4 linked regions of the Homo sapiens genome follow. The protein of the gene in region 4 purifies or fractionates together with the protein of the main gene of each other region. This does not show direct contact. Each region holds a gene or a part of one and is shown on either strand. Other genes may lie near its edges.

Region 1 (7,027 bases), on a different chromosome or scaffold from region 4:
AGGTGGGAGTTTCATAAGCAGGTAGAACACAAGAAAGAGTGGTGTGACAACCTGCAACTGGTGCTAATCTTAGGAGGCAGGTGGTGCATGACAAGATATATGGAAGTATGTGGTGTGGGATCCAGCCACAGAGACTGGAGTTTAGGGTAAAAGCTATTCTATGGGGAGGAGGCAAAAGGGAGACAAGGTGTCAAACACAGAGGAACTAGCATAGAAGAAGTAAAAGAATTAGTAGTAATAATAATTATTATATTTATACTTAATATTTGTATTAAATGTTACTGACATTCTATTTTATGCCAAGGCACTAAGGATCCAGAGTTGACTAAAAGTATTTGTCATCCTGGAGGAATCACTGTCAGGTAAAGGAGAAAAGCATGTAAACAAATGACAGTGTAGTGTGGCGTATGTACTAATATATCCAAAGTCTAGAAATAACAGAAAGGAGAAATGAGCCCAATCTAGGAGTCAGAGAACCTTACGGAGAGGGGTATAACAGAAGAGTAGCAATTCTCCATCTAAATCAAAGACAGTAGAATTGAAACATTCTGGATGTGAAGAATAACATTGGTACCAGTCCAGGATGTAAAAGATAAATATCATGGTGTATTGTTTCATACAAATAAACAGGTATTAGTAAATCAAGAAGTCTGAGAGATGGAGGCTAGATGAAATGGTATATGATAAGATCAGAGAAGGTAGGCCTGAAGGGTTTTATTTTCTATAGTAGGAATCTTGGATTTTATCCTATTGGTGATGGGGAGTCATTGAAGAATTTTAAGCCAAAAATGGAATAAACAGAATTTTATTTTCCATTGACCCATCTGAGGATGGCATGGAGATGGATTATATGGGGGAACTCTAGAGGCAAGGAGACCAGTCCAATTCTGAGGCTATTGTAGTTGTCTAGTTGAAAGATGGTGCATGTCTGGGCTATGTCAGTGGGGAAGGAACAGATGAAGTTAAGAGATAGAAGATAAAATTGATAGAATTTGATGATTGTTTGCATGCCAAAGATAAAAGGGAGGGAGAACTTTTACAGATAGTAAAAACAGAGATGTAAGACAAAAAGACCATTAGGGGAACGGAAGTATGAGGTAATGGCTTTGTCTGATCTAGGTCCTGCTTCTACAGGGGTTGCGTGTCTCTAGCAAAGGAGTATGGTGAGTCTCCGGGATGGAGAGCAAAGACAGGCATCTGTAATGTTTAATTTCCAAATAGCCATAATAAAAAATGCAGTTAGCTATAGTTACCATGCTGTACATTAGATCCCCAGAACTTATAGCTGAAAGTTCATACCCTTAAACCAACAGCTCTACACTCCCCAGCCCCTGGCAACCACCCTCAACTTTTTTAGATTCTACATATAAGTGAGATCATGTGATATTTGTCTTTCTGTGCTTGGCTTATTTCACTTAGCATAATGTCCTCCAGGTTCATTTATCTTGTCATAAATGACAGGATTCTTCAATTCAAATTTGACAAGAGAGCAGATTTTAAGTATTCTTACTACAAACACACACACACACACACACACACACACACACACAGTGGTAACTATTAGTGGTGATGGACGTGTTAACTTAATTGTGGTAATCATTACACAGTGTATATCAAGTGACCTTGTACACCTTAAATATATATACTTTTTGTCAATTAAGTATTTAAAAACTTAAATTGTCTATAGTAATTGGCATGTCCAAGAACATACCCTTGAAGGTTTTTTATTCTGTTACCCTGTCATACTAATAAGTTCAGCTTAAATCTTGACATTTTTACTTATGTTATTATTAGTAATAATGAAAATAGCTACCATATATGTCGGCTTAATCTCTGATATTTTATAGATAAGGAAGCCAAAGCTCGGAAATTGAGAAAGCATTCCCCAAATCACATAACTGCTAAATCGTAGAGCCAGTATTTTTACTGAGGCTATCTTTTCAAAACCCATGAGCTTAAACAAGTGCTATAGTCCTTAAAGTCCAGGGAATGGAAATTCTATCAAAAAGCAAATAGTTGAACAAACAGTGAAGAGTTTTCTTCATTTGAACAGTGACTTGTTAAAATTACTATATGCTAAATTAGACTATACCAGTATCACATGTGGGCTTGTATTAGTCTGTCCTCACACTGCTATAAAGATACCACCTGAGACTGTAATTTATAAACAAAAGAGGTTTAATTGACTGACAGTTCCTCATAGCTGGGGAGGCCTAAGGAAATGTAAAATCAGGGTGGAAGGCAAAGGGGAAGCAAGGCATGTCTTACATGGCGGCAGGAGAGCAAAGAAAGCAAAGAGGGAACTGCCAAACACTTTTAAACCATCAGATCTTGTGAGAAGTCACTATCACGAGGACAGCATGGGGAAAAGTGCCCCCATAATCCATTCATCTCCCACCAGTCCCTCCCTAATACTTGTGGATTACAATTGCAAATGAGATTTGGGTAGGGACATAGAGCCAAACCATATCATTCTGCCCCGACCCTTCCCAAATCTCATGTCCTTTTCACATTTCAAAACCAATCATCCCTTCCCAACAGCCCTCCAAAGTCTTAAAACTCATTCCAGCATTAACTCAAAAGTCCACGTCCAAAGTCTCATCTGAGACAAGTCAAGTCCCTTCTGCCTATGAACCTGTAAAATCAAAAGCAAGTTAGTTACTTCCAAGATACGATGGGGTATAGGCATTGGGTAAATGTCCCCATTCCAAATGGGAGAAATTGGACAAAACAAAGGGGCCATAGGCCCCATGCAAGTCCAAAACCCAGCCGGGCAGTCATTAAATCTTAAAGCTCCAAAATCTCCTTTGACTCCATGTCTCACATCCAGGCCATGCTGATACAAGGGCTAGGCTCCCACAGCCTTGGGCAGTTCCAACCCTGTGGCTCTGCAGGGGATAGGCACTGTGCCTGCTTTCATGGGCTGGCATTGAGTGCCTGTGACTTTTCCAGGTGCATGGTGCAGGCTGTCAGTGGAGCTACCATTCTGGGGTCTAGAGGACAGTGGCCCTCTTCTTACAGCTCCACTAAACAGTTCCCTAGTGGTGACTCTTTGTGGGGGCTCCAAGCCCACATTTCCCTTCAGCACTGCCCTAGCAGAGGTTCTCCATGAGGGCTCTACCCCTGCAGCAGACTTCTGCCTGGCCATCTAGGCGTTTCCTAACATCCTCTGAAATCTATGCAGAAGCTCCCAAACCTCACCTCTTGTCTTTTGTGCACCCTCAGGCCCAACATCACGTGGAAGCTGGCAACGCTCGGGGCTTGCACCCTCTGAAGCAACAGCCCAAGCTGTACCTTTATTCCTTTTAGCCATGGCTGGAGCTGGAGCAGCTGGGATGTAGGGTACCATGTTCCAGGGCTGCACAGAGCAGTGGGGCCCACCCAGCCCACTAAACCATTTTTCCTCCTAGGGAAGATCTCTGACATGCCCTGGAGACATTTTCCCCATTGTCTTGTCTATTGACATTTGGCTCATCATTGCTCATGCAAATTGCTATAGCCAGCTTGAATTCCTCCCCAGAAAATGGTTTTTTCTTTTCTCCCACATGGTCAGACTGCAAATTTTCCAAACCTTTATGCTCTGCTTCCCTTTTAAACATAAGTTCCAATGTGAAGGCATCTCTTTGTGAACACACATGACTGAGTGCTTTCAGAATCAGCTGGGTCACCTCTTGAATGCTTTGCTGCTTAGAAATTTTTTCTGCCACATACCCTAAATCATCTTTCTCAAGTTCAAAGTTTCACAGATCTCTAGGGCAGGGAGAAAATGCTACTAGTCTCTTTGCTAAAGCATAGCAAGAGTCACCTTTGCTCCAGTTCCCAATAAGTTCCTCATCTCCATCTGAGGCCACCTCAGCCTGGACATCATTGTTCATATCACTATCAGCATTTTGGCCAAAACCATTCAACAAGTCTCTAGAAAGTTCCAAATTTTCCCACATTTACCTCTCTTCTTCTGAGCCCTCCAAACTGTTCTAACCTCTGCCTGTTACCCAATTCCATAGTCACTTCCACATTTTCAGGTTATCTTTTAGCAGTACCCCACTCCTGGTACCAATTCTCAATGCTAGTGCCTCTTACACTGCCATAAAGATACTACCTGAGACTAGGTAATTTGTAAACAAAAAAGGTTTAACTCACAAGGCCACATGGCTGGGGAGGCCTCAGGAAAGTTACAATCATAGCAGAGGGTGAAGGGGAAGCAAGGCACATCTCACATGGTGGCAGGAGAAAGAGAAAAGGGGGAACTGCTAAATACTTTTAAACCATCAGATATTCTGAGAACTCACTATCACAAGAACAACATGGGAACAGCCGCCCCCATAATCTAGTCACCCCCTAACACGTGGGGATAACAATTTGAGATGAGATTTGGGTGAGGACTCAGAACCAAACCATATCAAGGCTCTATAAGAAATCATATAAACAATATTAAGGAAATTGTATTTCTATTGATATATAGAATGAATGTATTTCAGTTCTCAACAATCTGAACACTTGATAATGAACCTGATGAGGTACTGCCATCCTTGAAGAGTGGACCTCAATACATGTATAGAATTAAAGGGAGAAGTCATAGAATTCTGAAAACAGACTTACGGAAGTTCATGTATTCTGATTAAGTACTGTAGCCTGTTTAAGCAAATTTTTAAGGATAAAACACTTATTTTTTTTTAGTTAATGCCAGAAATGCACACACATTTTAAACCGATTTCCAAAAACGATTTTATCTTTTCTTCCTTGGCCAGGCTGAAACACTTTTCCAGGAAATCTGCCCCAATGAAGATTTCTGTCCCCCTCCACCAAATCCTGAAGACATTATCCTTGATGGAGACAGTTTACAGCCAGAGGCTTCAGAATCCAGTGCCATACCAGAGGCTAACTCGGAGACTTTCAAGGAAAGCACAAACCTTGGAAACCTAGAGGAGTCCTCTGAATAATGGATATACACCAAACTGGATACCCAACTTTGGAAATTCTGACTGGTCTCAGAGTCTACTTGATAGAAGGACTGTTTGAGAAATGTTAGAAAGCAGCAGCAATTATAAGGCAAAATAGGTAATAGAAATCCAAAAGGGGATTTTCCTTATAGAGGACATTCCAAGAACACACAACACTTATAAAGCACATTGACTTGCTCATTTTAAATACCAAACTTGTGTGACTAGCAGATGAAAATTATAAATCAATTGATTCTCAGGAATGTAACTGTGGATATGAAAGTGATCCTATGCATTGTTAATAATTCCATGGTCTTAGGACAATTTTGCTTACCACTTTGGATCTTTGTTTGAAAGCCACATTTTCAGAACCAGCTCATGTATTTTCTTTGGTTATTTGAATTTTATTTTCTTTATGGACAAGAGCATCATAACATAATGATAAAAACATATAGAAAAACTAAAGTATCATGATCTAGATAGAAGCCTGTATTTGGAATACAGGTTTGTTTTGCTTTCTATGTTGAGAAGCATTGAAAATGCTAATATAAAGGTGTTTAGACATTTTTACGAATAAGTCAGTAGTGTTTTTTAGTATCAGTAGTGATATTTGTTTGTAAATTATTTACATATTGGGAAAGGTCAATAATGAAGAAATGAAAGAATGGAAGGAAAGGTGTGGATAGGCTCATTGGTATTTGAATATTCTGTCTGTCAAGTAACTAGAGTATTAGGCTAATTGTCTACAGACCTAATTTAATCCTGGCTGTCCTACTGATGATATTTGGTAAATTGTTTAACTTCTGAGCCTACGTTTCTCCATATATAAAGTGGAAATAGTATTACTATGCCTACTATATGAGAATGGTTATGAAGACAATGCAATGCCATGTTTAGAATCGGTTTGCCAGAAGAAAATTGTTTTAGAATTTTCCCATTGACTTGATGAATCTCAAAAGTCTCACGCAGGAAATAATTGCTTGCTGTCAGTCAACTTCCAAACAAAATAGATCACAGTGTTTTTATTGCATTAAGCTTTTTAAATGAAAATTTCTTTTTTAAAGTAGTATTTTATAGTCTTACAGACCAGTAAAAATAGTAACAAGTAGAATTGTGGTTTTGAAATATTACTAAGGAAAACACTCTATAAATTGTTTTATTCCTTTTCTGGTAGGTAAACCTGCAACCACCAAGGACTCCAAATTGTGTATGACAGTTGGTAAGCCCTAATATACACTACATAAAAACGTTAGGGCTGCCTGTAATCCCAGCACTTTGGGAAGCTGAGGTGGGTAGATCACTTGAGGTCAGGAGTTCGAGACCAGCCTGGCCAACATGGCGAAACCCTGTCTCTACTAAAAATACAAAATTTTAGCTGGGTGTTATGGTGGGCACCTGTAATCCCAGCTACTTTGAAGATGAGGTAGCAGACTCACTTGAACCAGGGAGGCGGAGGTTGCAGTGAGCCAAGATTTTGCCACTGCACTCCAGCCTGGGTGACAGAGCAAGACTCTGTCTCACAAAAAAAAAAAAAGGGGGCTGTACATAGGCAGCAAACTAAGCTGCAGTGATGTTGCCTATATTTAAATTTTCTCAAATGGCCAAGCTCTGATGGTCTACTTTATTTGAGCAATAGTTGAGACTTATAATTGCCTATAAATAAACAAACAAATGAACTATTTGTTTTTTTTTCTCACAACATCTGGCCTATATTGTCTGTCAGGAAGCCATGGCTCCAATGTAAAGTACATAGTTCTTACATACTTCAACTGCAGCTGGTCCCTGACCTCACCAGGTTTCAGAGATGTTCTTAAAGGAAGCCAGCTGTGGCAGGTCACAGATTCATGGGAAATGGAAAGAACCAAGGAATATAGCTCTTGCCTCACCTTTCTACCCACTGCAGATATAGTTCAAGCCAGAGTAATGGAAGAACTTAACTTACTAGCCTCTCAGGCTGCTCCTATCCCTACCTCCCAGTGTACAGCCCCTCCCCATCTCTTTAGTCCCCTTTCCCTCACTTCCCCTTTTATAATGTCACACAAATCAGGGACAGTAGGATCACATTATAACCTACTTTGTCATAGGGA
Region 2 (7,491 bases), on a different chromosome or scaffold from region 4:
ACTCTGGCCTGGGCAACAGAGTGAGACCCTGTCTTAAAAAAGAAAAAAGGAAACTAGTACCAATATCATCATATTCAGTCCTTGTTGATCTAGGGCTCAACTTCCAAGTCCCCTATTCATTTGTCAAATATTTACTCATCCTCTACTAGTTGCTCAGCCCTTTACTGGCTGTCCAGGCTTCATATCCCTGCCCCTATGGAGTTTACATCCAATTTGAAAAGCAAAGAACAAGTGAAGAAAATAATTACCCCCTCTAATAAGAGCAGTGAGAAACAAGCAGGGTACTGATAGAGAATGATGGTTGAGGGGAAAGCTGAGACCTAAGGAAGTGGAAAAAGTTAGCTGTATGAAGAAGTGCAGGGGGAAGTGAGGGGTGGTAGCCATGGAACCAAGAGTACAAAGGCCCTCGGGTGGTTGAAAGCTTGACCAGATTCTAGGAACCGAAACACATGCATGTTTGGGGTTTAATGATCAAGGAGCCAAGGAGCACTAAAAAATAGAGTTGGAGAGACATACAGAGGCTAGATTAAGGTATTAGGTCATATTTAAGGATTTACAATGTATCCCTTTTTTTTTTTTTTTTTTTTTTGAGATGGAGTCTTGCTCTGTCTCCCGGGCTGGAGTGCAGTGGCGCCATCTTGGCTCACTGCAACCTCTGCCTCCCAGGTTCCAGCAATTCTCCTGCCTCAGCCTCCTGAGTAGCTGGAATTACAGATGTGCACCACCACACCAGGCTAATTTTTGTATTTTTAGTAGAGACGGGGTTTCACCATGTTGGTCAGGCTGGTCTCGAACTCCTGACCTCAGGTGATCTGCCTCAGCCTCCCAAAGCACTGGGATTACAGGCGTTAGCCACCATGCCTGGCTAGGATCTACAATGTATTCTAAGTACAAAAGATATACAGAAGCCTGAACATGATCTGATGCGTGTTTTTAGAAGATAATGGACAGAACAGATAGGAGAAGAGGAAAAAGAGAGGGAAAAAAGCCTGTTGAGAAACTGCCACAGTGATGCAGGAGAGAAAAAGATGGTCTGGGCTGAGGTTCGCTCTCATTTTCTTTCCTTAGATTAAATCTCTCCTTTTCAAAGGGCAGATGGATGCTTAGTAAAAACAGATCAGCAAACAATTATTCCCATGTACCCAAGTATAAATAAGACTCCATGGATTCCTGCTTTGCATAAAGGTTTGAAATATTTTATTTTATTTTTTTTTTGAGACGGAGTCTGGCTCTGTCACTCAGGCTGGAGTGTAGTGGCGCGATCTTGGCTGACTGCAACCTCAGCCTCTCGGGTTCCACTGATTCTCCTGCCTGTCTCCCGAGTAGCTGGGACTACAGGCATGTGCCACCACACCTGGCTGATTTCAAGATTTGAAATATTTTAAAGATTGATGGTGTCCTGGTTTGATCTTGGGTTTTGGCACCAAAAAATAAAATTAAAAATAAAGATTGATGTTTACCACTCATCTTCACCAACCAACCTACTTCCCCTAAACCTAAGGTTTCACTGTAGCAGGAACTACCATCTGTGGCATGAGATCAACTCAACCAATTAGTGGCTTTCAAGCCTCTTCACCTTAAGCAGTATTTGTCATCTACAAGTTCCCTTGCAACTGGAATGGGTGGGGTGGAAGATCCAAGAAAAGCACAGAATTTTCTTTTTTTGAGACAGGGTTTTGCTCTGTTGCCCAGGCTAGAGTGCAGTGGCATCATCATGGCTTGACCTTCCTGGGCTCAAGTGATCCTCCCAGCTCAGCCTCCTGAGTAGCCAGGACTGCAGGCTCATGCCACCATGCCCAGCTGATTTTTTTTTTGAGACTGAGTCTCGCTTTGTCACCCAAGCTGGAGTGCAGTGGCACGATCTTGGCTCACTGCAACCTCTGCCTCCTGGGTTCAAGCAATTCTCTGCCTCAGACTCCTGAGTAGCTGGGATTACAGACGCCTGACACCACGCCCAACTAATTTTTGTAGTTTTCGTAGAGACGGGGTTTCACCATCTTGGGACGGGTTGGTCTTGAACTCCTGACCTCGTGATTCACCCGCCTTGGCCTCCCAAAGTGCTGGGATTACAAGCGTGAGCCACTGCACCCAGCCTGCCCAGTTTTTTTTTTTTTTTTTTTGAGACGGAGTCTCACTCTGTTGCCCAGGCGGGAGTGGAGTGGCGCGATCTCGGCTCACTTCAGCCTCCGTCTCCCGGGTTCAAGCGATTGCTCTGCCTCAGCTTCCCGGGTAGCTGGGACTACAGGCACGTGCCACCATGCCCGGCTAATTTTTGTATTTTTAGTAGAGATGGGGTTTCACCATATTGGCCAGGCTGGTCTCAAACTCCAAACTCCTGACCTTGTGATCCGCCTACCTCAGCCTCCCAAAGTGCTGGGATTACAGGCATCAATCACCGTGCCCGGCCTCCAGCTAATTTTTTTTATAGGGACAGTGTCTCTGTTACCTAGGCTCTACAGCACAGGCTGGTCCCAAGTGATTCTCCCATCTCCCACTCCTGGCCCCAAGTGATCCTCCCATCTCAGCCTCCCAAAGTGTTAGGATTACAGGTGTGAAGCACTGTGCCTGGCTCAGGTACAACATTTTAGATGCACTCAGTCCGTTAAGGCTTAGTCCAGGTTTGATTGTTATTGTCCTTCTGTTGGGCCATAGGGCCTGTACTGTGAACTAAAATGAACTTCAGTGTTAAGTAAGGAAGGGATCCTTATTAGCCTTAAATTCAATTCCCTTATCTCAGTGTCTTCAAGTTTCTCACAACTCTTGAGTATCGATAAAATAGTCTTCACCTAAAACATGGTTAACATAATTCAGTTGACATGCTTAAATTTCTCTTCAAGAGCCAGAGGCTGATGGCAATTGTGAAAAAAGCTCTTTATTGTTATTGCTAATAAAAAAAAAAGGGCCAATAGTCAGGTGTGGTGGCCTGTACCTCTTGTCCCTGCTACTGGGGAGACTGAGGTGGGAGGATGGCTTGAGCCCAGGAGATCAAGGCTGCAGTGAGGCATGATTACACCGCTGCACTCCAGCCTGGACGACAGGGTGAGATTGTCTCAGAAAAATAAAGAAAAAGGGTTATTTCATATTGGTTCAAAAATATAGGTAGTATGACCCCCTGATGACTTGAAGACAGAGCAACAGAAGGACCTTCTTTAGTCATCATTAGCTTAGCCAAAAGAAAAGTCAGTTACACTCACTGTTGCATAATCAGTTGTATGGTCAACTGTGCACTAATTCATTTGGTCACAAATATATACAATCAAATTAAGGTTGAATGTAAATTTAAACTTTACTTTTGCTTTCTTCTCCCCTCCCCCCCAGAAAGATCCATGGTCCAATATAACATATCTTCTTCAAGTATTTATGGGGTAAGAAACATTTTAAAAAGTTGTTACATTCTTTCCTCTATCTTAATGATTTAAATATGAGCAAGTTCGGTCTATCAAGGCAGGCTCTGAATAGCTACTATCGAGAAGTATTTGAGGAGTTCTTGAATGCCAAATCTTCATTGTCTGCTGACTCTGCAGATTTATCACGTGCTGAAAGCACAGGTTTTCCAACTGTCAACGTCTTTACGAAATTCACCTGCTTAGGCTTTCGTGGGGTCGGCCTCTTGGAGCTGAGAACACAGCTTCTGCTTACACCTGTGTCCTCAATGAAGCCAGAGATTCCTAAGAGAATTCTAGAAAAAGAGGAGCGGGGTAGAAGGCAAGCAAGGAACAGTTTCTAAGCTTAGGGCCTAAACCTTTGCATACAAGGATCAGCTACCACGTTTACAGCGGCTTTAAGTTACAGCCCTCGGTAGGTGCAGATCGGCTTCCCAATGAAACCTGGCTTTCACTTTCATCTCTGTTAAGGGTTACCTTTTCAAAAGAAGCCGCTTTTCCTCCTACCAATTTCCTAAAGCGCCCACCGGCAACGCACTAAACAAGGAGGGCACAGAGCGGGAAAAAGGACACGTGTGATTTCCGAACTCTTCCCGGCGGGCTCCGGGCCCCGGCAAGCCCAGCCCCGCGGGAGGAACCAAGGCCGCCACCCCCGAGAGGCAGCCCGGCCCGCGCTCCTCGCCCACGTGGCCGCCGCACGCGCCCGCTCAAAGTCCAAGGGCGGCGATCCGGCTCTGGGACCTTGGACCGAGCGAGCTCCCGCCCCGACGGCGGGAGTCAGAACGGTGGTGGCCAGCAGTCCCCGCCCGCGGCTCCGTGCACCTCCACCCCGGCCCGCGCGCCGCCTCCCGAACCACCGTGGCAGAGGCCGCAAGGGGAACCGGAAGCCAAAATGGCGACGCCCCGCCCTTTTCCTCTCGCGAGAGGCGGGGAAGGAAAAAAAGTTGTGCGAGCGACGGGGACGTAACCAATTAGAGTGCCGGGAGCGCCTGATTGGCGGCCCTCCCGGCGCCTGCAGGCCCCGCCCCGGCTGCGGAGGCTCAGTCACAGCCCTCCCCTCCTCGCTCCCTCCCCTCCTCTCCCCGCCCAGTTCTTCTCTTCCCGTCTGAGGTGGCGGTCGGTCTCGCCTTGTCGCCAGCTCCATTTTCCTCTCTTTCTCTTCCCCTTTCCTTCGCGCCCAAGAGCGCCTCCCAGCCTCGTAGGGTGGTCACGGAGCCCCTGCGCCTTTTCCTTGCTCGGGTCCTGCGTCCGCGCCTGCCCCGCCATGAATGAGGAGTACGACGTGATCGTGCTGGGCACCGGCCTGACGGTGGGCGCCAGGGCTGAGGGGCCGGGGCTGAGCAGCCGGGGCGGGCGCACCCCCGGCTCCTGCACGGCCCGCGGGTCGCAGCTCCTCGGGGGTCTCGTTCTGCCGTCAGCCGTAGTTTTCGGGACGGGAGTCGTGGCTAGGGGCGCGGGCGGGTTCAGGGGCGCCCCGCGTCCCGGGGCGAGCGGGCGGCTCCCAGTGTGAGGGGCAGGCGGGGAAATGGAGATGCGGGCCGTGAGGCTCGGGGCGGGGTGACGGCCGAGCCCGGCCTCTGCGCTTGCCCCCAGCGGAAGCGGAGGGGAGGGGAGAAGGCCGCCCGGGCCAAGGGTCCCGCTCCCCGGTTTGGGCCGGTGACCTCGCCCGGTTGGAAACCAGCACCCGAGGCGGAGGGGACGGTGCAGGCCTCGCGGTTGCATTTCCTATTCCGCCTCGGCCGCTGCCCCGGGTCAGTCTGGCTGCCAAAGCCGAGTACGGGGTTTCCTGACAAGTCTTGGATAATCACTGCTTCGGAACTGCTAGGGCTTGATTAACTTATATTTTTGGCGAAAACGTGGAAATTAGTCTTTTAATCCTTTCTCCCCCCTGCTAATGAGAAGTATTATTGAATCCTTTTAGCCACCCTCCCTTCTCACTTACTGAGCATCTGTAGAATTGGAATTGAGTTTTTTCAAAACTTGTCCGTCAAATGCTTTCGCACCTGACCTTCGCCGCCTTTTCCTTTTGTTTGGTGGGTTCTCTGCCTCCTTTGTCTCTTCTGGACTGTTTTCCCCTAAGAATTGGGTTGGTGATGGATTGCTAAAAGCCAAGTTCTCTGTACTCCGAAGCTTTCTTCAGGGAGTTGGAAGATAATAACATGAAGAATGCATTGTAATATATGAATGCAAGGTGTACCTAATATCATGGTATATTGATTTTCCTGGTTATCTGTTTCTAAGGGAACTTTAGGTAATCTGTAGATAACGCAGGCAGGTTCTGTAGTTTGTACTTTTTCTGTTCTTTTTTTTTTTTTTTTAAATGTTCATCTTGCAAAAGAATTCACTTTGGAGAAAACCATTTTAACTATCAATTTTTGGGGAAATTTGAAATTCTAACTTTGGGCTGCTTGATCATAATTAAGATGAATACTGATGTAAATCTTGTGTATCCTATGTACTCTGACTTCAAATTCCTGAGTCATTTAATGTAGACTTCCACTTCAAATTTTTTGAAATTTATTATAATCTCTCAGGGTCAAACCAATTTTTTTTTTTTTTTTTACAGGTAACATCCCAAAATAACACTTTTAGATGTCTCTAGGCAAGAGAAAACCTTCGAACTTTTATTTGGCTAATTTTTTAGGAAAGGTTTGTGAAGAATTAGAATCGTGTTTTTCTGGTCTGTCATTTTTCTGTTTATAGTTATATGCAATTATTAGAGAATATTCATTCTGAATACTTCGTTATGTTTGACCAATCCAGGAATAATCCTGTGTCTGTCTTTGAAAAGCTGGAAGACTGTTGGATGCCTAAATGAATAGGCCCTACCCACTGCAGGTTTTGTGCTTTTTTTTTTTTTTTTTTAAGTGCCTAATTGGGATTCCAAGCTGAGCTTAGTAGTTTGTGGTGGATTTTGCCTGTTGGAATGGGTAGTGTTGCTGCCAGCGTGTTTTAAGAGCCGGTTAGTTCCACCGTTTTTCTATGGTTGTTGCTGGTCTTTCAGATTTGCTCACAATTGAGGTCAGTTAAGCATGCACGAGTGAGTGCAAATCCACCATCATGCAGGCTTCCACAAGCCTCGTTCACATCACTTTGTATCAAAGATGGTGAAAGTGTTTTTATATAACAAGTTAAGATAATGAGCTTTGTTTAAATTTTCATTCGGATTGTGAACTCTTTGATGAATGGTAGATGCATACTTAACTAGAAATCAGACCTGTTTCTGCTGTCATTTTGTAGCTGTGATAACTTTAATCTCTGTGAGCCTTCCTAAGTTTTCTGAGATGTTCTTTGATAATTATATCAATTCAGGACAATCACATTATTACCATCATTGATAGGAGTAGTGATGACAGGATGATTTTGATAATGAGAAATCATATATCCTTATTTTTAGTGTTACCAGGAATTAGATGATTAAAAATTAGAAGAAGAGAAAACCAAAGTTAGCACTCAGAATTAACTTTTGAATGTCTGGAGTTAATTAATTTTCTTAAAATTTACTTTAGTGCCTGAGACTTAAGAACCTAAAAAAAGGCAAGTACTTTCAGTGTTAGGAACTTGTTACTTTTAAAGAAGTGTAAGGAAGTGCTGGAGTTGCTGTGTTGCTTAGTGCTGCCATTGTTTGTATGAGTTGTTAAGTCTAAGCTCATAATCACAAATATTGATAGTTATCTTAATCAAGAAGATACAAAACGATTTGGTATAAAGGAGTAAAATCTTCATTCTGTGTGTAAAAGAAATGGAATATTCCACACAATTGAATTTTCTGAGGAACTAAAGGTTATCTCTAAAGAGCACAGCTTTTGGATAATGCCTTTCTAAATGCTGTCACAACTTCTTTAACAAACTAAGAAACATAATTTACTTGATAACCAAGTTTTCACATAGTGAAGATTAACTATTGTGTTATGCTGTAACATGGTGAAGCCATGAAGACCCCGCCAGCTTTGTAGGAACTTTTGCCCCCTTTACTCTCAGGCTGCTATGCTTTTTGAGCTCTTCAGTTTACTCTTCATATTTTTTCCCTCTATCTTACTTTACTGTTAGGCTGGCAACATTTACTTTTCTCTGCTTTCAGCATGTGTAGGCAGCCTCTCACCACATA
Region 3 (7,027 bases), on a different chromosome or scaffold from region 4:
AAGTGTTCCTATTTCTCCACATCCTCTCCAGCACCTGTTGTCTCCTGACTTTTTAATGATTGCCATTCTAACTGGTGTGAGATGGTATCTCATTGTGGTTTTGATTTGCGTTTCTCTGATGGCCAGTGATGGTGAGCATTTTTTCATGTGTTTTTTGGCTGCATAAATGTCTTCTTTTGAGAAGTGTCTGTTCATGTCCTTTGCCCACTTTTTGATGGGGTTGTTTTTTTCTTGTAAATTTGTTTGAGTTCATTGTAGATTCTGGATATTAGCCCTTTGTCAGATGAGTAGGTTGCGAAAATTTTCTCCCATTTTGTAGGTTGCCTGTTCACTCTGATGGTAGTTTCTTTTGCTGTGCAGAAGCTCTTTAGTTGAATTAGATCCCATTTGTCAATTTTGGCTTTTGTTGCCATTGCTTTTGGTGTTTTAGACATGAAGTCCTTGCCCATGCCTATGTCCTGAATGGTAATGCCTAGGTTTTCTTCTAGGGTTTTCATGGTTTTAGGTATATTAATTTCTTTAAAACTAATCATTTTCTACCACCACATCTACTCCTCAACACATCTCTGCTTCTATGCTTATTAAATCCCATTCTTCACTGACCTCTCTCTGCTGCCCCTGTTTTTAATAAGCACAGCCATTAAAAAGAATAATGTAGATCTATATATACTGGCTTGGAAAGGAATCCACAATAAATAGAATAATACAGTCTTATACACCAAGTACCTATGTGTGTGTTTGTATATGAATAGACAAAAGGCTAGAATAGTGCTATTTAATAGAATTATAATGCACCTCACAATATAATTTTAAGTTTTCTAGTAGCTGCATTTAAAAAGAAAAAAAACAAGTGAGTATCAATAAATTTCATTTTACTCAATATATCCAAATTATTTCAACATGTGATCAATATTTTAGAAATCAAGATATCGTACATCTTCTTCCTAAGTCTTTAAAATCCAATATATAGCTTATGCATACAGCATATCTTAATTTGGACCAGTCACTTTCAGGTACCTAACAGCCATATATGGCTACTGGTTGTCATATTGGACAGTACAGATCTAAAAGGCTACACACCCAACTGTTAAGAATGGTTTCCTTTGGAGAGAGGGACTGGCTAGGTAGAGAATAAGAAATGAGGAAATTTAACTTCTAATTTTATCTTTTATTACATTTGCAATGAATATTTCTATTTTATCATAAAAACAATAAAAACTGACTCCAACTACAGACCCTCCAGCATTATTCTAGGTGCCCCACTAATAGAACTATCTTTTCCTCTGATATCAAGTCTAATTTCTCTGCCTCAATGATTCTGTTATTACTCAAAAACCCTCTCCTTTGTGACCCCAATCCCTCACTGGTAATCTTTCACTCTTCACAGCTCTACAGTATCTCACATTTAATCTCTACACTATCCAAACTCCTGTAGCCACTACTCAAAGGCTACAGGTGAGTTAACCACTTACTCATGTTTCATGATGTTCAACTGCGGGAGGGTCTGATTTGGGACCACAAAACTCATTCTCGCACAAATGTCCTTATAATCTTGATTCCTTCTCTCAAAGTCCTCCACGTGTGCAGCCAGATGGGAATTGACAATGCAAAAGGTGGTGTTGTGAAATACAAATCTCACAGCTACCCCACCTTTGTTTCCCTGTTAGCAAGAGTAATTATTCAATTAGTACACAGAACAAGCAACTGAACTTTACATGAACATGAATAATAATCAAGCTCATTTCCAAAGTAACTCACCATTTTCCCCATGATTCCAGTTCCAACTGTTTCTGTAGCAATATCACGAATGTATCGACACTGATCCTTTCTGGCAAATATAAGAAGCATCATCCCAACAAGGCGCACCAGTTGAACCTATGAGTTCCGGGGAGTTACAAAAGGTTAATGTTAATACCAATCTTTGCCACATTTCTAATGTCCCACGACTAATTTTCCATCAAGATGATATACTAGTGCCCAAATCTGACTTCATATCCTCTAATTTCTCAGTGGACCCCGTCAAGTGGAAACTAATATTCTCTGGGGAGGCTCTAATCTGGCACTGACCAATAAGAGTTAAAAGCTGGGAGGGACAATGAGTACTTTCAGCTCTAGATCTATTCTTTTAATCACTTCTTAGCCTACCAGGAGTAAGCAGCATTAAAAGTTCAAATAATAAAGCCACTATCCCAGCTTGTTCCTTCCACCTTTCCTTCCTAGTTTCTGATGTCTAATTTTCTAAGAAATTGAAATCAACCAAACAGCAATCTTTTTTACTTATTTTTAACTTGTGAACTACAGCTAGAAATATGTCTGAGATATACATTAGTCAGGGACCTATATGAGAGGAATAACATCCCCAGGAGTTTTATTACCTATATAAACTGTTAGAAGATGTAGAGAAAAATTACTCACATTACTTCTTTTAGAGACCTTAGTATGATAGCCCTGTAATTAACTCTTCTGGTAGCTAAATGCCTTTACCACATACCTTCTAAAGACAAACAAATTGGCCCATCTTGCTAAAGTCAACTCTCCTCTTAACTTAAAACCAAGTTTAGAACTCGTTCAAATTCCACACCACTTCTATTCTTGCTCTGATTGCAACACATGCACCATGCGCCCACGTTTCATATTGCTTTTCTGTAAAGCATTCAATTCTGACCATGTCAGTGAGTAATCTAAATCTTATATGTAATTATTTCAAACTAAGTATTGATATAAGCATAATAAAATTCTTTTTTCCCCTAAAAGCTATCTAAGCAATGAAAATATAGTATCAGAAAGCTTAGGGATTTTTTTTTCTAGGAAATAAGGATGAATGATCAATCTGCCCTATCCCAGTATTACACACAGAGAAGAATTCAATTAAACTATTCTTTTGGAACAAGTTGTAGATAATGGAATAACTCCCGGTGAGCCCTATTTAGTCATACACTTAAAAAGATAATTAAATGCGGCTTACTTTCTTATACTTGGCTTTGGAATGCAAACCTCTCTCTACAGCCATGGACCATTCTTGTTCCTTCACAGATTCAAAGTAGAAGAAGGCTTCTGTGCTCAAGTCCAGTTCTTGGAATCTGAGGAAAAAAGGGATATGAGATCTATACATATCCCATAATTATCTCTGGCTACCTCCTGTCCCATATGTTGAAACATTAGATGAAAAAAAGATGGGAGAGAGATAAATTTTATAGAACTGCTCTGTTCACCCAGGTTATCAGTAAGAACAAGTAGCTTTCTTTTCTAAAGAATTCCCACAAGTACATTCATAAGCTATGCAAAAAATAAATCAAAATACCTCCCACAGAGGATAACAGCAGAGCTTTGCTCTTATATCCTAGGAACTGTCACTGTTAGAACTGACCCCAAGTCTTAGTTTCTATGCAGAATATATAGATTCCTACGGGTTTCAAGAAAATTAGATGCTTCCTTACACCATTTTAGGTATCTGTTCATTTCTGTTCTCACAAATTTGACCCGCAAGTTAACTCTCGTGTATAGTCTACAGTAGGTTTTACCAACAGTCTTTTTTAAAAAAGGCAAAACATCATGTAAATGAACACCAAACATATAGCCAAAAGGAAATTCCAGAAGTGTTCTTTACCCAATGCAGTAGATATCAGGAGGATTGGGATCACAGTTCAGCCAAGGTTCTAACCCGCTATCTGGAGACTGGCCATTCACATTCCAAGTTCCAACAAAAAATCTAATACATAATACGAAAAGATAATTTGAAAACAAAGATCAAGTATAAACCAACAGAAGTTCTTTCTTTTCGCTTCCATACAAAGGTATGTTCACAATATGCTAACATAATTCCTCAAAATGTTTTGCCACATATGTAAGAAAGATCTTTTGCATCTAGAACACAAAGGCAGTGGGCTTATTTTCTCTAAATTTTACATTAAGTAAAACTACAGAAGGAAACCAAGTCTTTATTTTTAAAAAATGCAAAGGTAATTGCTATACCACATTTCCTTTCAATTAAGCTCCATCCAAACTCATACTTGATAGGAGAGCTTATGGATGGGAAAGAGGTATCTTCATGCTGTAAGCTAGTCAAATATGGATAAATGTTCTATAAGGGGCTATAGTTGACTCCAGGAACTCACTTCCTGAAGGATTACAAGGACATCTGTGTAGGAAATTCTGATGAGGCAGACATAGTATTAAGGGGGAAAGCAGAAGGGAAAACTCATGACTGTCTTAACTGTTTACACACAAATATAAGCATAGTGGGGGATATGAGGAACTGCAAGTTTTAGCATAGGGATATAGTTATGACTGAATTAGAATAAATGAGGTATGACAGGATAGCAGATGGGACTAGAATCTTGGACTAGAAGGGTACATTCTGCTCATGAATAACAAAGAAATGTGGTGTTGCTTCATGCATTGGCGATACATGCCACATGGTACCTCACATGCAGCATACACACACAAGTCCAGAAAAAAGATGAAATAAAAAATAATACAGATAAAAGAACCCAAGATAGACCTCCCAATCAAGAGGACTGGGTGAAACTTTCTTTATTTACCAAAGTAAGTAAGTTAAGAGCTAGTGGTAATGATGGACTTTAATTTTCTAATATTGGCTGAAAAAAAAAAACTTAACAGGCCAGATATATAAACACGCTTGCTTATGGAATGTGCTAGGGGAAAATTCTCTAGTACATGTGACCTTGATTTGGTTCTCTAGGACTCAGTAGAGACATTAGTAGACATGGCATTATTAGTAGTTAGAAAATCCAAGGGAAGGCCAAGCACGGTGGCTCAAGCCTGTAATCCTAACACTTTGTGAGGCCAAGGCGGGTGGATTGCCTGAGCTCAGGAATTTGAGACCAGCCTGGGCAACCTGGTGAAACCCAGTCTCTATAAAAAACACAAATATTAGCTGGATGTGGTGGTGTGCACCTGTAGTTCCACCTACTTGCAGGGCTGGCGTGGGAGGATTGCTTACGACTGAGAGGTTGAGGCTACAGTAAGCCATGATCTATCTGCTCTCCAGCCTGGGTGACAAAGAGAGACCCTGACCCACACACACAAAAAAAGAAAATCCAAGGGAAACTGTAGCATCTGCATTATTTCTGATATGCATGTTATTGGCCAGCATAGAGACAGGAGCTTGAAACAGGCAACCATTCCTTTTTATCATATTTTGATTCTTAATTAGGCTAATGTCTTAAATATCAACAGGCCACTGTCTGTTATATATACTAACTTTTTAGACTCAGGAAGCAAAAGAGACACTAACCTGAAAGTCTGAATGTTGACATATTCTTTCTCTCGCTTTGCCAGGATATGTTTGATGAGACCCTCCCGCTGCCCAGATTGGGTATTTGGTACAAAGAGCTTCCGCATGGTGTTGGTCACTTTGGGCTGCTCCTTGTTAGAAGCTTCTTTTTCACGTGGAAGCCTAGCAAATAAATGAGAGATTCAAAAGTAAAATTGTTTAAACTATAATTCTCCTACAAGGCAAATATGTTTTCACATGGGACTTACATTTTATTCACTGAAAAGGGTGGAGGTGGGGGTTCCCGATGAATCCCAGTAGGCTGATTTTGTGAATTTATTTTCTTGTCCAAATTCATAGAAGAAAAATTGTCTTCAAATCCAAGAAGCCCTGAAAGACACAGACCCCAAAGTCAAACGGGGAAAAAATCTAACATCCAACATATCCAGGGTAACAGGGCTTTGATTTGATCACAATTTGATCAGTGGTATTACTAAACAGAAAACTATCATAAGGGTAGAAATTACTTGGATTGGAGTTCGAAGAAGCATACCTATCCCTGAAGCACTGATATACTAACTAGAACAATAGAAGTTTATAAGAACTTGGAACAGACTAGTAATAGCTAACATTTATTGAAGACTGAGCACAATGCCTGGTTGAGAGTAAGGGACTATATCATGATCTCACTTAATCATCACAAAAACTCCAAGAAGTAAGTACTATTAAAAATCTTCCCATATTACAGAAAGGAAAAGGGAAGTTCAGAGTTGTTGAGTAACTTGATGAAGGTTGTACAACTAGTAAGTTCTTGACTTGGGATTCAAATCCAGGCTGTCTGGCTCTCGAGCTTGTACTTTCTACCACCCTGCTAAGCTGGCTCCTGAACAGCTACCATGCTACAGGAAGGATAAGGAGTGAACACTGGTCAGTGGGCCTGGACTTGATAAAACTACTCTGCAGGAGAATGTGTCTGACATCAGCTTTAATCTACATCACCATATTTGGCCTGACAAAATCTACTGACTCTGCAATGACCATAGCAACAAGGAAACCAGGAACTTTTTAGTACCTGAAAAAACAGAAGGTTTGTCCTTAGTGTCTAATTTCTGGTACCAGCTAGATGAGTCCTTTTGCTCTGGAACAAGAAGCTGTGACTGAGCTAGAGAGATAAGGTTCATGGTCAGAAACTGGGAAGTCTTTCACTGAGTAGAATTTACTATAGCCAAAAGCCATTCTTTCAACATTCCTTATATGCAGGGGCCAGCACCATTTTTGGATACAGTGGAAGAAACTAAGGAAATGAGGGCAGCTCTGGGGTCATCTAGGGGCAGAAGGAGAATTATAGTCTATGGTAAGCTGTGCTTGCCATGACACTGAATATTCTGAAAACTTGCCTAGTGTCCTTAAAGCTGGGCAGATTTTTTCCCTAACCTATCCCTGTGTTCACTCCTGAAGAAAAAAAAATCAGCTATCAGGGCTTAAAGGGTGAGGTATTTTGCCAATGGCCACTTTCCTCTGTATCAGCATGTCAGAATTCCACTCCCGTTGAAATAGAAGAAAGAAAATCGCTGAGTCTTTAGTTACCTTTCTGAGCAGCAAGGACAGCTGAGAGGAACTTCAAACAGTGTTCCTCATCAGGGATTTCAAAGCGGCGCTCTCTGATCCAGTCCCCCTGAACCCGAATTTTGCAGCCACCTAAAAAGAATTGAAATCCATACATATACTGCTATGGGATAAAATGTTTTACTGGGATCATATTCTCAACTTATCAGGTTAACAGAAGAAGGT
Region 4 (6,175 bases):
ACCTGGAGGGGCCACTCAGGGATGTTCCTAACTGGTGTGGTGTGGGGCTGGGGATGGAATATGGCAGCTAGATGTTGTCAAAGGTCATTATAGTTCACCTTAAGTTCTTGCCTTTAAATGGCTTTCTGAAAATCACCAGAAGCATGAGAGATCCAGTCCCTGTACCCTCTCCCCCCTTCCTAATCCCCTAGCCATGGCAAGCAGAGTGGGGATGAAGGAATATATCGTACCCCTGACTCAGTTCTGCCTGGAGGCTCCCTTCCCATCAGCCTTTCAGCAGAATGGAGATTAGGGGAATGCGTGTGGATTTACTCTCATGAGTGTGTCCCATCTTTACCCCTTCGGAGTTGGTGGACAGCCCAACTCCACCAGTAGGAGGAAGAAGCAAAGCAGCAAAGGGCTTTAGGTAGTGGACATACCACCCAGGCATGACAAAAGGGACTCTGTGGAGCACACACTTCAGGAACTGTTTTTGAACCCCCCCATTTATGACTGCACCACTTAAACACAGACAAGAAGCTTTGTTTTGAGAATTAGGACAGTTTATTGTTTGACCAACATGCTGAGTCTTTTCCACATTTTACACAGTTTAATGTGAAATCAACATGGCGGCTATGTCTTCTGAGCCCATAACAGATGGAATTGCCACCCTCTGTGCTCCTCACAGCCAATCACTTTAAAGGGATGGGTGAGGGGAAAGTGAGGGGAGAAGTGGACACACACCGCGAGATGCAGGCTGGCCTTCAATGCTATGGAGGCTTCCCACCTCCTGAAGGAACCATCTAAACCCCTGCTGCAAGGATTTCCTGATGAAACCACACACTGCTGGGAGTGCCAACCAGACAGGGGTCTGGAGTCCAAGGAGTTTGCACATTGAGATCCCAAGGTTTTGGAACACCTAAATAGTTCATGTCAAACAAAAATTCAAAGGGTGTCCTGATCTGTGTGGGTGCCCATGACAATCAATCAGAGTAGACTTGGGGACTGGCCCTTGTGCAGTAGAGGAGCCCAAAATACCACCAATATTCTCACTCATATGCTGGGAAGAACCTAGTGTCCTAACCAAAAAGAGTAGAGATGGTCTGAGGAACACACCCACACACAGCAGTCCTTGCTGTGTAATAAATATGGAGTCACATTTGTTCACACACAGGGCAGCAATGGATGAAAAATGGAAACTTCACTGGTTCTGATCACTCCTAACTTGCTGGGTGATCTTAATAAGCAAGTTGCCCTTCTCCATCCTGGTTTTCCTGCCTGTAGACAGGAAAAGTTGTGACAGCTCTGCTTCACATAGCTGTAACAAGGTGACAATGCCTCACATTCTTTGGGGAGAGGCAGTTCGGAAACGAGTGTGCGCACAATCTGCTCGGTTGATGCACACAGACATCCTTCTGTTCAGCTGCCCCTCAAGTGGCTCAGACATGCCTCACTGTCCTCGGCTACCTGGTCCCATCTCATCCTGACATCCTCACCTGCCTTCCATCTTGTGAAGGAATGAGGCTGCTCTACCTGCAGGATGCTGAAGCCAGGAGGGCCATCCCTTTATTGTCACAACTGGTATCCCAGGGCAGGGCCTCCCCGCACTGGCTAGCCACCAGGATGATGCAGACGTTGCACCCCAGATGTGTCTGCACTCTTAACTACCACCATTTCAATCCTTGTTTCTGTTGCCAGAGATACTGAAACTGGTCTGGCCATTGCTCCCCTCAGACCTGGGAACATGACTGAATGTTTAAGGATGACAAGAAGAGAGCAGCGATAGATAGCAAGGAGGCCTCTGACCAAGGGAAACTGCTGCCAACAGCTACCAAGCCAACTAGCCTTGGATCACACAACTGCAGCCATGGTGCTCATGATTCTGATGTCACACCTTCATGTTGATGTATGTATGATCACCCAGCAAGTTAGGAGTGATCAGAACCAATGTGTTTCCACTTGTAAATAGGCTGTTTGCTTTTTCCATCTTACACTCAACTTTCCTGATGCCTGCAGAACAGGAGCTTTGTTGATAAGCTTTTAAGATTCACCCCCTTCACTCCCACCATCCCCAAAAAAGAAGGCCAAGAGGATCCTGCTAATCTGCCAGGTCACGTCTAGTCTTTGGGGAGAGGGACTGAATTGCTCAATTGAGAACATTTCCTCAAAGGAATCCTCCAATTTGCCCTCTGCTAACCCATCTGGATTCAGCAAAGATGCAATGCTCTTGCTGGGGTGCTGAGGCAATGCCATGACATCTTCTTCAAGAGCACCTAACAGTTTATTATGGAACCTTAACTCTGTGCCAATTCTACCTGCAAGCAAGGGGACAGGGATGGTGCCTGCTCAAGACAAAAATCAGGGAACCAACAACTTCTGAAAAAGAGGTCTGGCTGCCTTTCCACACCCCAGGAAGGGAGGGGCGGAAACCGCACGTGCCGAAGGGAGCGCCATGGAACCACTGAGATGGGAGGATGGGAGGAAGCCACCCTCAGCCTCAGAGGCCAAGGGGCTGGGGAGAACCCAAACTCAAAGAGAGGATGTTGTGTGCATGCTAGGAAAGGCAGGACTCACTAAGGCCATGTCAAACCAAATGCTATCTTTTACTGCTCCTCTAGGCCAGGATGGAAACACAGTCCACGGTGCCTTGGATGTGTGTGCCCCTGAGAAGGGAACTGAGTTTCTACTGTTTTATGGGATGTTTTTTTAAAAAAGCTAATCTTTAGTGCCAAGAAAATAAAAATCTACCATACGTTCATTCACTGAGACCCAGTGCAGATTCCTGTAAATGGGGCGGTCTCAGAGGCCACAGGTGATGGCCCCCGCTGCCAACCAGGCAGGACACTGTCATGTGGACTCCTGTAAATTCTCTCGAGGTAAGTAAGCACTCTTCCAACAAGCACCACTTGGGGGTGTGCCCATGGTGGGGGGACACTGGCCCACACAGGCATGCACACCCGTGCATATAAAGTACATAGAGAAATGGTGGAGATATTCCCGTGGGCTATGTTTGCCTGTAGTTTAACACAACTATGCATTATTTTATTGATGGCAAGACAATCACAAGTTATTTGACAATATTAAGTATTTCTTATTTCAACACGTTGCAGTACTTTTGAATTTCCAAAACTTATCACAATGCAAGTTCCAACTTGAGAGCAGGAGAAACAAGAATATACATTGAGCACATGTATCTCCGTGAGGATGTGTTTGTGGAAGGTGTATACACAAGTCTATCTCTATATATAATTATGTACACACATATAAAAACTAAACACATGACATCTGAAACACGTTCAAACATTGGTCCTTGCCTTCTGCAAGAGGTGCTCAGTGGGATCCTGCTTCCTCTCTTCTTCACCTGAAGATAAATTCCTTGCTAGAGATGAGCTCTGGCATACAGCCTCCTAGGCAGAGGGTGTGTGGCAGGCCCACTGCACAAATATCAGTCCTGCCAGATTCTGCTGCACTTACTGCCTGCCATTTCAGATTAATTTCTGAGAAGTTTCAAAATTCATTCCAACGACCTTGTGGAGTTCAGCCCACCATACCCCAGATGGTCATTCATCCCATCTATGACATGCCCAGCAGCAGCCTGGAGGGAGAGCCAATGACAGCAGGGAGGGTGGGGTTTACATTTTGGCCAGACTCACTGCCCATTGCACCTGGCTCTGTGCAGGCTCAGGGCAGTGAGTCTGAGTCTATTTGGAATGCTGGCCAAGTAGGTTATATCACTTAGTGGGAAGAGAGAGTTCTCTTCAGAGACTTTGCAGATTCTCAGGACTAAGCCATTCTCAGGAATGAATCAAAAATGGAAGAGATGGCTCTCTGGGGGCAAGCAGCCTTCTGGAGACCCCACCTGAACCACATCCTCAGGTGACCACAGCGCAGCCACAGTAGCCACAAAGATATGTCCACAAAGACTTCAACTGCGCCATGCCACTGGGGTGAAAACATAGCAACAAATCAGCTTTTCCAGAAAGCACTCAACAATATTAGCAGCTGAGGCTCTAAGAACATGGATCTTTCAAGGTGGTGGTTCTGCAGACAACACCCCCCCCCCCCCCCGCCTCCCCATCACAGAGGATCAACTCCAGGTGGTCCAGCTTCCCTGACATCCAGGAGGAAGGCTTCAGGATGGCACACTGCCCAACATCACACACTGAGTTTCTTAGACTTGGCCCAGGCATGTGTACTGACTGCTGGGTGGGCTGGTTAAAATATTTTCAGAAGTACACATGGCACCCCAGTCTATAAACCACGCACCACGCAGCTGCAATTGCCAACAGCACCTCGTCCTTCTGATGGCCTCTTGCTCTGCCAGTCCCTGAGGGCACAGAGAACACAAGGTTGCCTGTACCCTCAACCCCCTTCAAGGCTTTTCAGGGAAAGAGAAGGAGAGGTGGGAGCAGTTCCTCTGGGGGCTGCTGCCGGGCTGCCTAGAGCCCACAGACCTTGGTCTCAGCTCCACACGAGGTTGACGACCCACTCTGGCCATGGAAAGACAAGAGTCAGAGCTACCTTTTCAGAGGCTGATGTGTTCAACCAATGTTTGATTTAACTGGAGTAGGGCCTAGAGAGTGGGGCCAGATGGCCCCAGACTGAAGCCTAATTAATTTGCTCAGTTAATTGTTTTAATTTATTGGGCTGGGGATAGGAGGAAGGCAGAGGTGATGAATGGTTCAAAGAGAACAGGAAGGAGGAGGTGTGTGGAAAAGGTTCTCTATAAGTTTACAAATATACAAAAACAAAAAGCACATCTTTCAAATAAAAATGACTACATTTTTATCTGGCAAAAAATTGTATACACATGATTTAAATTTTTTTTAAATTTTAACAGTTTTTGGCAATCTTAATAAAGTACAATATATTACAACCAAACCAAAAAATAGTTGTTTAAGTAACAGCCGTTAAGAGTGATGTGATCCCTGATGCCCAGCCTCCCTCCCCATCCCACCCTACTCCTAAAGACAGAGAGAAAAGAAAAATCCTCCCATCTTGATAACTCGGTTCCCTCCCCCCTTAGGAAGCTAGCCAATAGGAAGCAACACAACAAGCAAGGAGTGTCATGGGAAGCCACAGGTCGGCTCTGCATTAGCAGGAGCAGCCGCCCTCGCTGGCCGGGGGCTCCTGGGGTTTGTCCAGCTTGATGTCGATCACTGCAGGGGGACGGGCTAAGGAAGATGACTCTCCTGGACAAGCTGCCACCCCACTTAGCCCTGTGCACTGTACCCTTTGGCTACTGCTCTGTTTCTCTGCAAACACCTAGGGACTTGGCTCTTGGTTTGGCTGGGCTAGGAAGGATGCAATACCAACTCCACCTTGCCTCCTCTTCCCTTCACCCGTCCACTTCCCCCAGCGCCTGTCCACCCAAGCAAAGCCTGTCTTGCCTGGGCCGTGGGATCACCATCTATACCAAGGCCAGGGAGTCCCTTTCCCAGAAGCCTTCCCTCGACCAGTGCTCAAATGCCAGCTCCCAGCCCTGGCCTCAGCCCAGTTACCTGTCAGCCCCACTCAAAGTGCAATGGAGATGAAGAGCCTGCTGGGTTCACATCTCAAAGCACAGGGGTATGTGGGCCTTGCCTAATTGGCAGCAGGAGCAAACCCTTCAAGCTTTAGTCAGAACACATCACTTAGATCCTGAGGATGGTTACTGTAAGAAGCCACATCCATGGGGCCTAAGCACAGCCCCCTCGCCAGCCCTTTCCACTGGTGCCCCCGGGGGCTGTGGGCTAAAGAAGCACTTATCAGAACCACCACAGGGACTGGTTCCAAATGCACAGCCAGGCTGGCCCTCTGCCTTCCTCATCGGGCTCAAAACCAACACTGTGAGATTTTAGCCTTGCATCAAACCAGACCTAATTATAGCTGAGGATCAGGCCCTTTGATACCTCACAGAATTGCTCTTCCTGGACAGGGATTGCCTTAAGACAGGGGTGTGTGGGGTGTGGTGGTATAAGAAACACTGTTTTGGAACTTCTTGCTGGCATCCTAAGGATGCTTTTGTGGCTCCTATTTGAGGACAACAGGAGAGGTTCTTTTGTTTTAAGTACTATGAAAAGCCATGCTTCTCCTGAAGTTCACATTCTCTTTCCTTGCCTTGGCTGTGAGGATGCTCAGAGCCAACTTTTTGGCCACCTCTAACAACCATGCGGCCATGGCATACATTTTGAGTATGACTTTATCTCTGACTTTT

What was found.
Region 1: the proteins of RAB6B (region 4) and CHM purify together in Homo sapiens (co-immunoprecipitation; 3 studies listed by BioGRID and IntAct, with this or other methods). This does not show direct contact.
Region 2: the proteins of RAB6B (region 4) and GDI2 purify together in Homo sapiens (affinity purification with mass spectrometry; 3 studies listed by BioGRID and IntAct, with this or other methods). This does not show direct contact.
Region 3: the proteins of RAB6B (region 4) and OCRL purify together in Homo sapiens (affinity purification with mass spectrometry; 3 studies listed by BioGRID and IntAct, with this or other methods). This does not show direct contact.

Annotation. Positions count from the first base shown.
Region 1 is NC_000023.11:85,862,543-85,869,569, reverse strand, and holds part of CHM (rab proteins geranylgeranyltransferase component A 1), read left to right. Parts: intron 1-4,748; coding exon 4,749-4,940; 3' UTR 4,941-7,027. UniProt on the Homo sapiens protein: Substrate-binding subunit of the Rab geranylgeranyltransferase (GGTase) complex.
Region 2 is NC_000010.11:5,810,415-5,817,905, reverse strand, and holds the start of GDI2 (rab GDP dissociation inhibitor beta), read left to right. Parts: upstream 1-4,471; 5' UTR 4,472-4,647; coding exon 4,648-4,692; intron 4,693-4,708; exon of another isoform or gene 4,709-5,591; intron 5,592-5,949; exon of another isoform or gene 5,950-7,491. UniProt on the Homo sapiens protein: GDP-dissociation inhibitor preventing the GDP to GTP exchange of most Rab proteins. By keeping these small GTPases in their inactive GDP-bound form regulates intracellular membrane trafficking.
Region 3 is NC_000023.11:129,557,232-129,564,258, reverse strand, and holds part of OCRL (inositol polyphosphate 5-phosphatase OCRL), read right to left. Parts: intron 6,935-7,027; coding exon 6,824-6,934; intron 6,399-6,823; coding exon 6,309-6,398; intron 5,627-6,308; coding exon 5,506-5,626; intron 5,420-5,505; coding exon 5,258-5,419; intron 3,710-5,257; coding exon 3,608-3,709; intron 3,081-3,607; coding exon 2,966-3,080; intron 1,876-2,965; coding exon 1,759-1,875; intron 1,661-1,758; coding exon 1,473-1,660; intron 1-1,472. UniProt on the Homo sapiens protein: Catalyzes the hydrolysis of the 5-position phosphate of phosphatidylinositol 4,5-bisphosphate (PtdIns(4,5)P2) and phosphatidylinositol-3,4,5-bisphosphate (PtdIns(3,4,5)P3), with the greatest catalytic activity towards PtdIns(4,5)P2.
Region 4 is NC_000003.12:133,823,715-133,829,889, forward strand, and holds the end of RAB6B (ras-related protein Rab-6B), read right to left. Parts: intron 5,139-6,175; coding exon 5,074-5,138; 3' UTR 521-5,073; downstream 1-520. UniProt on the Homo sapiens protein: The small GTPases Rab are key regulators of intracellular membrane trafficking, from the formation of transport vesicles to their fusion with membranes. Rabs cycle between active GTP-bound and inactive GDP-bound states.